Linked DNA regions of Homo sapiens: region 2 is linked to region 1. Evidence: fine-mapped expression QTL. A gene starts in region 1. The other region holds a variant in brackets. All regions are shown on one strand. Distances are from middle to middle.

The links. PIP is the estimated chance that this variant, and not a neighbour inherited with it, causes the effect.
Region 2: its variant is fine-mapped to the expression of FLCN in whole blood (INTERVAL, PIP above 0.99).

The regions. Positions count from the first base shown.
Region 1 is chr17:17,235,200-17,240,199 of GRCh38, reverse strand. It overlaps FLCN (folliculin), which reads left to right and starts at 3,032. Exons shown (of 14, transcript NM_144997.7): 1 at 3,032-3,288. RefSeq lists a silencer at 2,086-2,271 and an enhancer at 2,706-2,815.
Region 2 is chr17:17,263,205-17,268,734 of GRCh38, reverse strand. COPS3 (COP9 signalosome subunit 3) reads left to right here. Exons shown (of 12, transcript NM_003653.4): 5 at 758-850; 6 at 3,754-3,933. Among named protein-coding and RNA genes, the nearest start is that of COPS3, 15 kb to the left of the region's middle. The variant T/C (reference allele first, on the strand shown) is at 2,687.

The DNA.
Region 1 (5,000 bases):
TCAGTTGCTGGAAGAAACAAAAACTTAGATCATTATTTTTATAACAGGGAATCAATTATAGTAACTTGAAAATATGAGATGTGATTAAAAATATTAAATTGAAATGCTTACAAATGAAATACACCCCTTCTTCCTGAAACTGGAAACTAAGAGTCATTGACATGTGGTTTGACTGAAAGATAAAGCCCAGCTGTATCCTACAGCTACATCAGAGCCCCTGTGGCTAAGGGTACATATAAAAAACTCTAAAACAAATTTCTGAATAAGATGTGACTTTTCCCTGCCACTTGGCTCTATGGTCCTGGCAACTGATGCCTTGGAAGTGATTGATCAGTTTGGATACTCAGCTATAATGAAGCCTCTTGGTTTAGCAGTAGTAAGAAGGCAGAAAAGCATCAAAAAACCTTAATTCTGATTGAGCCTATTTCAGTGGTGGAAAAAAATCTTAATTCTGATTGAGCCTGTTTCAGTGGTGGAAAAAACACATTCTGGATTGTATGCATGCCAGGCAGTAACATATCCAGAGCTTCTGGAATCATTTCATACAATTTCCATTATGGGATAGAAGCTTTGAGATTAGCATTGCATTTCATTTGGTTGTGAATTGTTGAACATTATTGGTATCTGTGCTTTCTGAACATTACTGCTGAGTTTCAATTATCTTTCCCATGAGAATGGGCACATTTTCCGACTTCTAAGATGTCCCTTTTGTTGCATGACCTTGAAAGTTTTTATACCCCATGAGAGCCCAATTTAAATAACCTTTGGTACAATTCACTGAGGCAAAGATTTGGCAGTTGTTAATTTTTTTTTTAAAGATTTATAGGTTTATTTAAGAAAGTACCTCCAAAAGAGGTAGGTGGCTGAAGCCAGTGGTGTTGGGAAAGATGTTAATGGCCTAAATTGAGCCCAGGTGTGGTAAATGCACATTGACTTTTACTGAAAATACACTAGTTGAATAACCTTCCGCCATTAGCCTATCACCATGGAAATAAGGATAATCTGAGCAAGGTGGTGAACTCCACTAACAAACTGAAAAAGGTAATTCCTGGAATTAAAGTTACAAGGTGAAAAAAACCTTGTTCTTGACTTAAAAATCTCATTAACAAACATTAGTTTCAAGAACTTGAACCCGGGAGGTGGAGGTAGCAGTGAGCCGAGATCGCGCCACTGCACTCCAGCCTGGGAGACATAGCAAGACTCCGTCTCTAAAATAAAATAAAATAAAATCACCCTGTAACTTACTACCTCCTCAGAAATTAAGTTTGCGCTGTCCAACAGCAAGAGGAATTCGCTTGATAAGAATAATTAAACACATAAAGGCAATGCCTAACCTCGTAACGCCACCCCATATTCCTTAATCTTTACCAAGCCACTATAAGACGGCAGAAAACACAAGCTGCACTTTCGTTCTTTTCTCGTGTCCCGTTTTCAACAGACCATGGATTTTTTTTTTTTTTTTTAGATGGAGTCTCGCTCTGTGCCAGGCTGGAGTGCAGTGGCACGATCTCAGCTCACTGCAACCTCTGCCTCCCGGGTTTAAGCAATTCTCCTGCCTCAGCCACCAGAGTAGCTGGGACTACAGGCGTGTGCCACCACGCCCAGCTAATTTTTTTTGTATTCTTAGTAGAGAGGGGGTTTCACCTGTTGGCCAGGATGGTCTCCATCTCTTTACCTCGTAATCCGCCCACCTCGGCCTCCCAAAGTGTTGGGATATTATAGGCGTGAGCCACCGCGCCCGACCAGAACATGGAAATTTAAAGAGAAAAAAATAAGTGACTTCTGATTTCAAAAACACAACCACCCACTTTTCTATTCTATTCCTGGTGAGCACATTCTGGAGACTCTGCGGCAACCATAGCCTCGGCCGCGGCGGAAGGCTCCGGGGCGGCCACACCTCAGGGGGCAGCCACACCTCAGGGGGCAGCGCGCACAGGCGGGTCAGGCTCTGATTCCCATCTCTCTCCGGTCTTCACTGGAAGGACCCACACTACATCACAAACTAATGGCTTTACAATTAACTTCTAAGTAGCTAAATTTAGTAATGGGCGCTCTAGTTTTAAAAAATATTATTCAGGCCGGGCGCGGTGGCTCACGCCTGTAATCCCAGCACTTTGGGAGGCCGAGGCTGGTGGATCACCTGAGGTTAGGAGTTCAAGACCAGCCTGGCCAAAAGGGTGAAAACCCGTCTCTGCAAAAATACAAAAAATTAGCCAGGCGTGGTGGCGGACGCCTGTAGTCCCCAGCTACTCGGGAGGCTGAGGCAGGAGAATCGCTTGAACCCGGGAAGCGGAGGTTGCAGTAAGGCGAGGTCGCGCCACTGGACTCCAGCCTGGGCAACAAGAGCGAAAGCGAAACTCTGTCTCAAAAAAAGAATATTATTCAAAAACTGATTTTCACATTTTTAAAAAAGACCCACTGAGGGAGGAAGACCGAATCCCACACATGCGCGCGCACAGCGGTTCCGAGTTCTGCAACCAACCTCCCACGGGCGCCGCGCCTTCTCCGCGTCACGTGACGGCCGTCTCCCGCACCTTCCATACTCTCAATGTAGGGAGAGGACGGGTTCCATCAGCAATTTAATAAAAACCATTGGTGAAGCAAAAAAAAAAAGCCTGCCAACCTCTTATAACGTTTTTTCTTTATTTTTCTCTTTTATGTGGACAGGAAGCCTTAGGTTGGCTATATTTACCCTCAAATCTCTTTTTAAAATGATTTTTAAGTTTCAGCATACTCCCGCGCTTAATGAAATGGTTTCCCCCAGCATCCCCAGCTGGTGCGGTCTGAACCATTCGGAACTTCCCAGAGGGGGGCACCGGAATAGGGGCGGTGGAAAAGGGTAATTGTCGGGCAGCGGCCCCTGCTTCCCAGTCAGACCTCGGAGTTGTAGGACTCGGACTGTGTTCCTGGGCTTGCGAGAGCTAGGGAGGCCCGGCTCTCCTCGCGGTGCAGGACGCGCTCGGACGGCTCCCGCACCCCCACCGCAGTGTTGGGTGGTGGTACGGCTCAGGGAGTCACGCGCCTGGGTGTCGGCGGGGCTGCGGGACCGCGAGTGAGTGTGGTCGCTCCTGGTTCTGCCAGCTCCCCTGAGAGCCTGAACCCGGGCTTGAGAGCCTCGCCACCCCGGGTGACATCCCTGCCGTGGGCTTGGGGGCTCTGGGTGTGATTCCGCCGGTCCGGGTCCCGCAGCGACCACCTACCCAGCGCAGTCAGGGGCGGGGCTGGGACCCAGAGCGGGACCCCGGCTGCCGAGTCCAGGTGTCCCGCGGGCCTCGATTTGGGGAGCAGGTAGGCGGGGGTCTGAGGGGTTGGCGGAGGGGCATGTCCGAGTTTTCGTTGGTCCCAGGTGGACGAGTAATGGGGGAGGGTTTAGGGCCAGAGTCCAGGGCGTCGCCGAGACCCTGAGATTTGAAGATAGGTTGGGGGCACGCCCATTAACCAAGTCTATGGGGATGAGGACTGTGATCTCATTTGATGTTGCCATGAAACGGGACTGTTTGCCTTCCCTTCTCCCAGGTTTTGTCTTCGCTCTGTTTGGAGGAGAGGGTGTGTGTCATCCTCTTCTCCCAGTTTGGCGTTCAGGAGGGTCCTCTGATGCGCTAATAGGGTAGCACCGTGTCCTCCAGGGAGGGTGGAAGACCGCGCTTCTCTCCAGTTGAGAGTACTGTCAGTCGCGTCCTTGTCTCCTGGAAAGAATGGATTGGCTTGTGGATTGAAGTCCAAGGTGTGGTCACTAGCAGTCTCTTCAAGTGGGGACACAGGGCAAGGAGGAGCTTGCTGGAAGTAGGTTCTGGCTCTCTAGCCTTTGGCCACAGCCAGTTTAGTGCCAGATTATCACCGTGGTCATCAAGTAATTGAGTAATAGTGGCAGGTGACACTGCGTTTGCCCTTCTAGTGTCCTATGTCAGGGAGCTCTGTGAATGGAAATCCAGGGAAACGGTGGAAATAGAGCCACAGTGAGAGTGGATCTGAACTGGCAGTCATCCCCTGCAGAACTTTTCACCCTGGGCTTGTTGGGATCCCAGCTGCTAACTTAATGAGGCTCCCCAGTGGGAGACTAGTTATAGAAGCTGTGTGTCCACTGCTGGTTAAGATCCGTTATAGTGCTTTGTTTATTTAGAGTGCCCTTACTTAGTGGCCTCTTTAATTCTCCACGGTGCTATGAGAACACCATAGGAAGTAGGGTTGAAATAGGGCCAGGGCGCACCACGGGTGGTGGTGAGGTCACTGTCCAGGTCTGGGACTCAGCCATTGTGGGAGGGGGACATGAACAGACACTCTACCACATCAGGGAATTTGAATACTGTCTTTGGATATGTTGATGAAGAGACTGTCAGCCAGGGCATTTCGGCTTCCTATGTGGGTTCTGGAAAGCTTGTTGGAAACAGACTCGTGAGACACACTCAAACCAGTTTGTTTTCTTCAGCAAACACCTGGTAGAGATTGGAATTGAACAGTGAGTGAAGAATGACCTCACGCTGCCCAGAATTCTGATTCCATGTGTAATGCGAATTCTGAGAGGCCTCTGTTTCTCAGCTTTTGGGTGGTATTCAGAGAGGTCTAGTAACACTTGGTGTCACCTGGCTGGTGAGGGCAGGCTCCGGTGACCGCAAAGCTAAGTGCTCTGTAGGGCACCTCCCTCTCTTTCAGGGGCTGCCTGGGCCTCTGGTGCACATGATCCATGGAGTCAGAGTCAGAGCTCTCGTCTGACAAGTGCTTTTGCTTTCTTTCTTTCTTTCTTTCTTTTTTGGAGACAGAATCTCATTCTGTCGCCCAGGCTGGAGTGCAGTGATGCGATCTCGGCTCACTGCCACCTCCGCTTCCAGGCTCAAACGATTCTCCTGCCTCAGCCTCCTGAGTAGCTGGCACTACAGGCACGTGCCACCAGGCCTGGCTAATTTTCGTATTTTGTATTTTTTGAAATGGAGTTTTACTCTTATTGCCCAGGCTGGAGTGCAATGGTGCGATCTCAGCTCACTGCAACCTCCGTCTCCCAGGTT
Region 2 (5,530 bases), 28 kb before region 1:
CGATTCTCCTGCCTCAGCCTCCTGAGTAGCTGGGACCACAGGCACATCCCACCATGCCCGGCTAATTTTTGTATTTTTAGTAGACATGGGGTTTTGCCATGTTGGCCAGGATAATCTTGATCTCCTGACCTCATGATCCACCCATCTTGGCCTCCCAAAATGCTGGGATTACAGGTGTGAGCCACCGTGCCCAGCAATTTTGGAAGAGACTATATTTTAGTCTGCCAAAAACTGATTATGCCTTACTTGACACTTGGTCTTCTTATTTATAATCAGGGCAGGAAACAGTCCTTTTGAAATCTATGGTGTTAGTTTTGGTAGTAATTTACTACCAGGTAAGGGGTAGACTGCCCTATGGGAAAATGCCAACACCCTTAGCCACAAGTAATTTTCCTAAGCATAGGCTGTTGTCTCTTGTATAATAAGTGATTTGGAAAGTTTTCATTTGTTTAGATGTTAATATAATAAACTGTTGAGAAAGTAATACTGTTTTTGATTATTGATCTTCATTGTAAAAATAAAAGCTTTTTATGATTTAAAAAATGGTGCTGAGTTATCTAAAAATTCCAAGAAACAGCTTAAGAAAAGTTTTCTGACTTAAATGGGACAGAAATTTCCTGAAAGAGTATGGAAACCTCATATTGCTATTTAAAGGAACCTATCAATTAGTGTTATTTTTTATTTATAAGTGACAACATAAGATCCAATGTGCTGCCATCTTTGAGAACTTATCTGAAAGAGATGTCATTTCTGACAGCCCCTGCGAGGAATTGGCATCCTTAAGCAAGCCATAGACAAGATGCAGATGAATACAAACCAGCTGACCTCAATACATGCTGATCTCTGCCAGGTAAGCAACCAAAGTGTGTGATTCACACCAAGTCAGAGGTGTAGGTTGTTTATGGGCTTGCTCAACATTGGGTTTGATAAACACAGGCAAGTTGGCGATATTGTGATGTGTTATAGAAGTTGGAATATGTAGGTACATCTATTACATTCAGGCGGGTGCTGGATGCAAACTGTAGGATGGGGCTCAACTAGTAAGCTTGTCGAACAGATAGGGTAATTAATAGTTGTAACTTTTTTTTTTTTTTTTTTTGAGACAGTCTCACTTTGTCGCCCATGCTGGAGTGCAGTGGCACAATCTCAGCTCACTGCAACCTCTGCCTCCCGGGTTCAAGCAATTCTCCTGCCTCAGCCTCTCGCGTAGCTGAGACTACAAGCACCCACCACCAAGCCTAGCTAATTTTTGTATTTTTAGTAGAACAGGGTTTCACCATGTTGGCCAGGCTGGCGTTGAACTCCTGACCTCATGATCCACCCGCCTCAGCCTCCCAAAGTGCTAGGATTACAGGTGTGAGCCACCACACCCGGCCCTAGTTGTAACTTTTTTTTTTTTTTTTTTTTGAGACGGAGTCTTGCTCTGTCGCCCAGGCTGGCGCCATCTCAGCTCACTGCAAGCTCCGCCTCCCGGGTTCACGCCATTCTCCCGCCTCAGCCTCCCGAGTAGCTGGGACTACAGGCGCCCGCTATCACGCCTGGCTAATTTTTTTGTATTTTTAGTAGACACGGGGTTTTACTGTGTTAGCCAGAATGGTCTCAATCTCCTGACGTCGTGATCCGCTCGCCTCAGCCTCCCAAAGTGCTGGGATTACAGGCGTGAGCCACTGTGCCCGGCCTGTAACTTTTTTTAAAATCCCGAATCATTTTTTTAAAATTGTGGAGCCTGCCAGGTGCAGTGGTTCACGCCTGTAATCCCAACACTTTGGGAGGCTGAGGCGGGCGGATCACCTGAGGTCCGGAGTTCCAGACCAGCCTGACCAACATGGAGAAATCCCATCTCTACTAAAAAAAAATTGTGGAACCTGAGACTTAACATAGCTAACTTCTTACACCTTAAAATGTTATTCATTTATCTTTTTTTTTTTTATTTTTTGAGATGGAGTCTTGCTCTGTTGCCCAGGCTGGAGTGCAGTGGCATGATCTAGGCTCACTGCAAGCTCCGCCTCCCAGGTTCAAGCAATTCTCCTTCCTCAGCCTCCTGAGTAGCTGGGATTGTGGACGTGCACCACTACACCCGGCTAATTTTTGTATTTTTAGTAGAGATGGGGTTTCACCATTTTGGTCAGGCTGGTCTTGAACTCCTGACTTCAAGCGATCCGCCCACCTCAGCCTCCCAAAGTGCTGGGATTACAGGTGTGAACCACCGTGCCTGGCCTCATTTATTTATCTTATTTTGCGATGTTCAAAGTCCAGAAGGCAAAAGGGCAGGTATATAATGAAGTCTCCTTCCCATTCTGTTTGCTAGCCATCTATTTCTTCTCTACAAAGGAAACTATGTTAGTTATTTCTCGTGTATCCTTCCAAAAACTTTTTATGGACATAAAAGCAAATACGAATATATATTTTCTCATTTTTTACACAAATTGTAATAATCTATGCATACTCTTATGTAGCTTGCTTTTTGTATTTAACATATCTTGGAGATGATTCTGTAGCAGTACTCTACAGGTACGGAGTATTCTATAATATGAGTATGCGATGGTTTTAGAAGTCTGCATGGGATATTTACATTGTTTCCTTCAAGAATAACATGGTATGTGGATTATTTCAAACACATGTTCTAGTTTCATATGAAGATGTGCTTTTTAATGTTTTAAAAAAATTGTGATTGAGGTACAACATA[T/C]AGACAGTAAAATACTAAAGTGTATAGCTCAGTGAGTTTGTACGCATGTCTACACTGCGTCTCCATTAGCTAGATAACTGTTCTAAGGGCTTGCTTTCTTGAGTTGCACAATTCCCTGTATTTACCTAAAGGATTAATTAAAGGAACCACTTCTACTTGTATCACACCATGCTGGTCTCTTTCTATTCCACTAGTTCAGTAAAGAAAGAGGACACACTCTTTTTCCCTCTAATCAGATGGGTAGGGATAGGTTAAGAGATAAGTGAGTCTTGTCTGTAGAGTTCTCTATTCTCAATCATCTATAGCATGCTTGGCCTTATAGCTGTTTAGCTTTTTATAAAGAAATGCTCCCCCAGGTGAGGTGGCTCACGCCTGTAATCCTAGCACATTCGGAGGCCAAGGTGGACGGATCACTTGAGGTCAGGAGTTCGAGACCAGCCTGGCTAATGTGGTGAAACCCTGTCTCTACTAAAAATACAAAAATTAGCTGGGTGTGGTGGTGCACGCCTGTAATCCCAGCTACTCGGGAGGCTAATGCAGGAGAATCACTTGAACCCGGGAGGTGGAGGTTGCAGTGAGCTGAGATGACGCCACTGCACTCCAGCCTGTGTGACAGAGTGAGACTCCATTTCAAAAAAAAAAAAAAAGGTAATGCTGTTTTTTTCTGAATGGCTAAGAAAATGGAGTACAGGTTGACTATTCCTAATCTGAAAATTTGAAACCCAATCCAAAAATTTGAAACCCAAAATGCTCCAAAATCTGAAATCTTTAGAATGCCAACTTGGCACTCAAAGTGCTCATTGGAGCAATTGGATTTCAGGTTTTCAGATTAGGGATGCTTAACTGGTATGTATTCTGCAAATATTCCAAAATTTGAAACACTTGTGGTCCTAAGCATTTCAGATAGCAGATACATGAAATGTGTTGACATTTAGATAATTTTAGTCAATAAAATGTAAAACACAATTACATTATTTGGAAATTTCTGGAATCAATGAATTTTCTCCTTCTGCTAATACCTGCCTAAGTAAAATTAAAGTGATGATTTAATATCAATTTGTTCACAGCTTTGTTTGCTAGCAAAATGCTTTAAGCCTGCCCTTCCATATCTTGACGTGGATATGATGGATATCTGTAAAGAGAATGGAGCCTATGATGCAAAACACTTTTTATGTTACTATTATTATGGAGGGATGATCTATACTGGGCTGAAGAACTTTGAAAGAGCTCTCTACTTTTATGAACAGGTAATCTCTCTAAAAATTAGCTGAGGTTGTTCTGAACTTGTGTGATCAAAAAAGTGCTCCCATAGGTTTGTGGCTAGAGTGGTCTGATCCCAGGGCCTCCGTTTCAGGTGTTGGTCCTTTCAGAGACTACTTCTCTGTGATCATGTAAATAGTGGTAACCTGATCCCTAAGTTGAGGAGCAGCGCCAGTGCATAGAAGAGCACTTGTCTGGGGGTTCTAATCTAGGCTTGCACTTATACCTTATCTGATTTGGAATAAGTTATGACATCTCTTGACCTTTATAGCTTCCTTTGCATATAAGGAAGAGATTGAACTGAGTGATCTTGGTTGTGTCTTATTCTAAAACCATGTGTGGTATTTTGTTAAGTTTTATTTAATCAGTGAAACATTCTCTTGATTCAAAATTTAAAGGGTAGAAAGGAGTACACAGTAAAAGTCCCTCCCACCCTTTCTGTGTCTGTGTAATGAAACATAGTACACAATTTGGTAGAATATTCTGGAGGTTTACTCAGACTCTGAAAAAGAGATACACAATATTGATTAATAAACCACTTTACTTAAGGTAAATTAGTTAGATGTTCGTAAGTTCCTATTTAGTTCATAGCATGTATTAAGTAATAAAGGATATTTAAAACCTTCAGAGAGCTCGGTTTAGTTGGAATTCTAATACATAATACACATGCATACATGTACACACATCCGTGGCTCTGAACCATACCACAATGAGTGGTTGATGTGTCCTGTTGAGGGGACCTGAGGAGGGCCACCATAAGGTGCCAGTAGGCAGAGATGGTGTCATTAAAGCACGTGTCTAGTCAGGTTAAATCTTCAAGGTGGCTTCTCTTTAAGACTACGCATTCGGAAAATTATAAAAATGCACTTCGTAGCCACTGGATGCATTATCATTGCTGTAGCCAAATATAGTTAACTCATGAGCAAACTTGATCTTGAAATATCAGGATGAGTGGGTGTTAAAAAGGTAAGAGGCGTCCGAGTGCGGTGGCTCACGCCTGTAATCCCAGCACTTTGGGAGGCCGAGGCCGGCGGATCACCTGAGGTCGGGAGTTCGAGACCAGCCTGACCAACGTGGAGAAACCCCATCTCTACTAAAAATACAAAATTTAGCTGGGCATGGTGGTGCATGCCTGTAATCCTAGCTACTCAGGAGGCTGAAGCAGGAGAATTGCTTGAACCCAAGAGGCGGAGGTTGCAGTGAGCCGAGATCGTGCCATTGCACTCCAGCTTGGGCAACAAGAGCAAAACTCCATCTCAAAAAAAAAAAAAAAAAAAAGAAAAGGCAAGAGGCTGGGTGAGGTGGCTCACACCTGTAATCCCAGCACACTGGGAGGCCGAGGCAGGCAAATCGCCTGAGGTCAGGAATTCAAGACCAGCCTGGCCAACATGGTGAAAATGTCTCTACTAAAAATGCAAAAATTAGCTGGGCCTGGCAGCAGGCGCCTGTAATCCCAGCTACTCAGGAGACTGAGGCAGGAGAATCTCTTTTTTTTTTTTTTGAAATGGAGTCTTGCTCTGTCGCCCAGGCTGGAGTGCAGTGGCACGATCTCGGCTCACCGCAAGCTCCGCCTCCCGGGTTCAC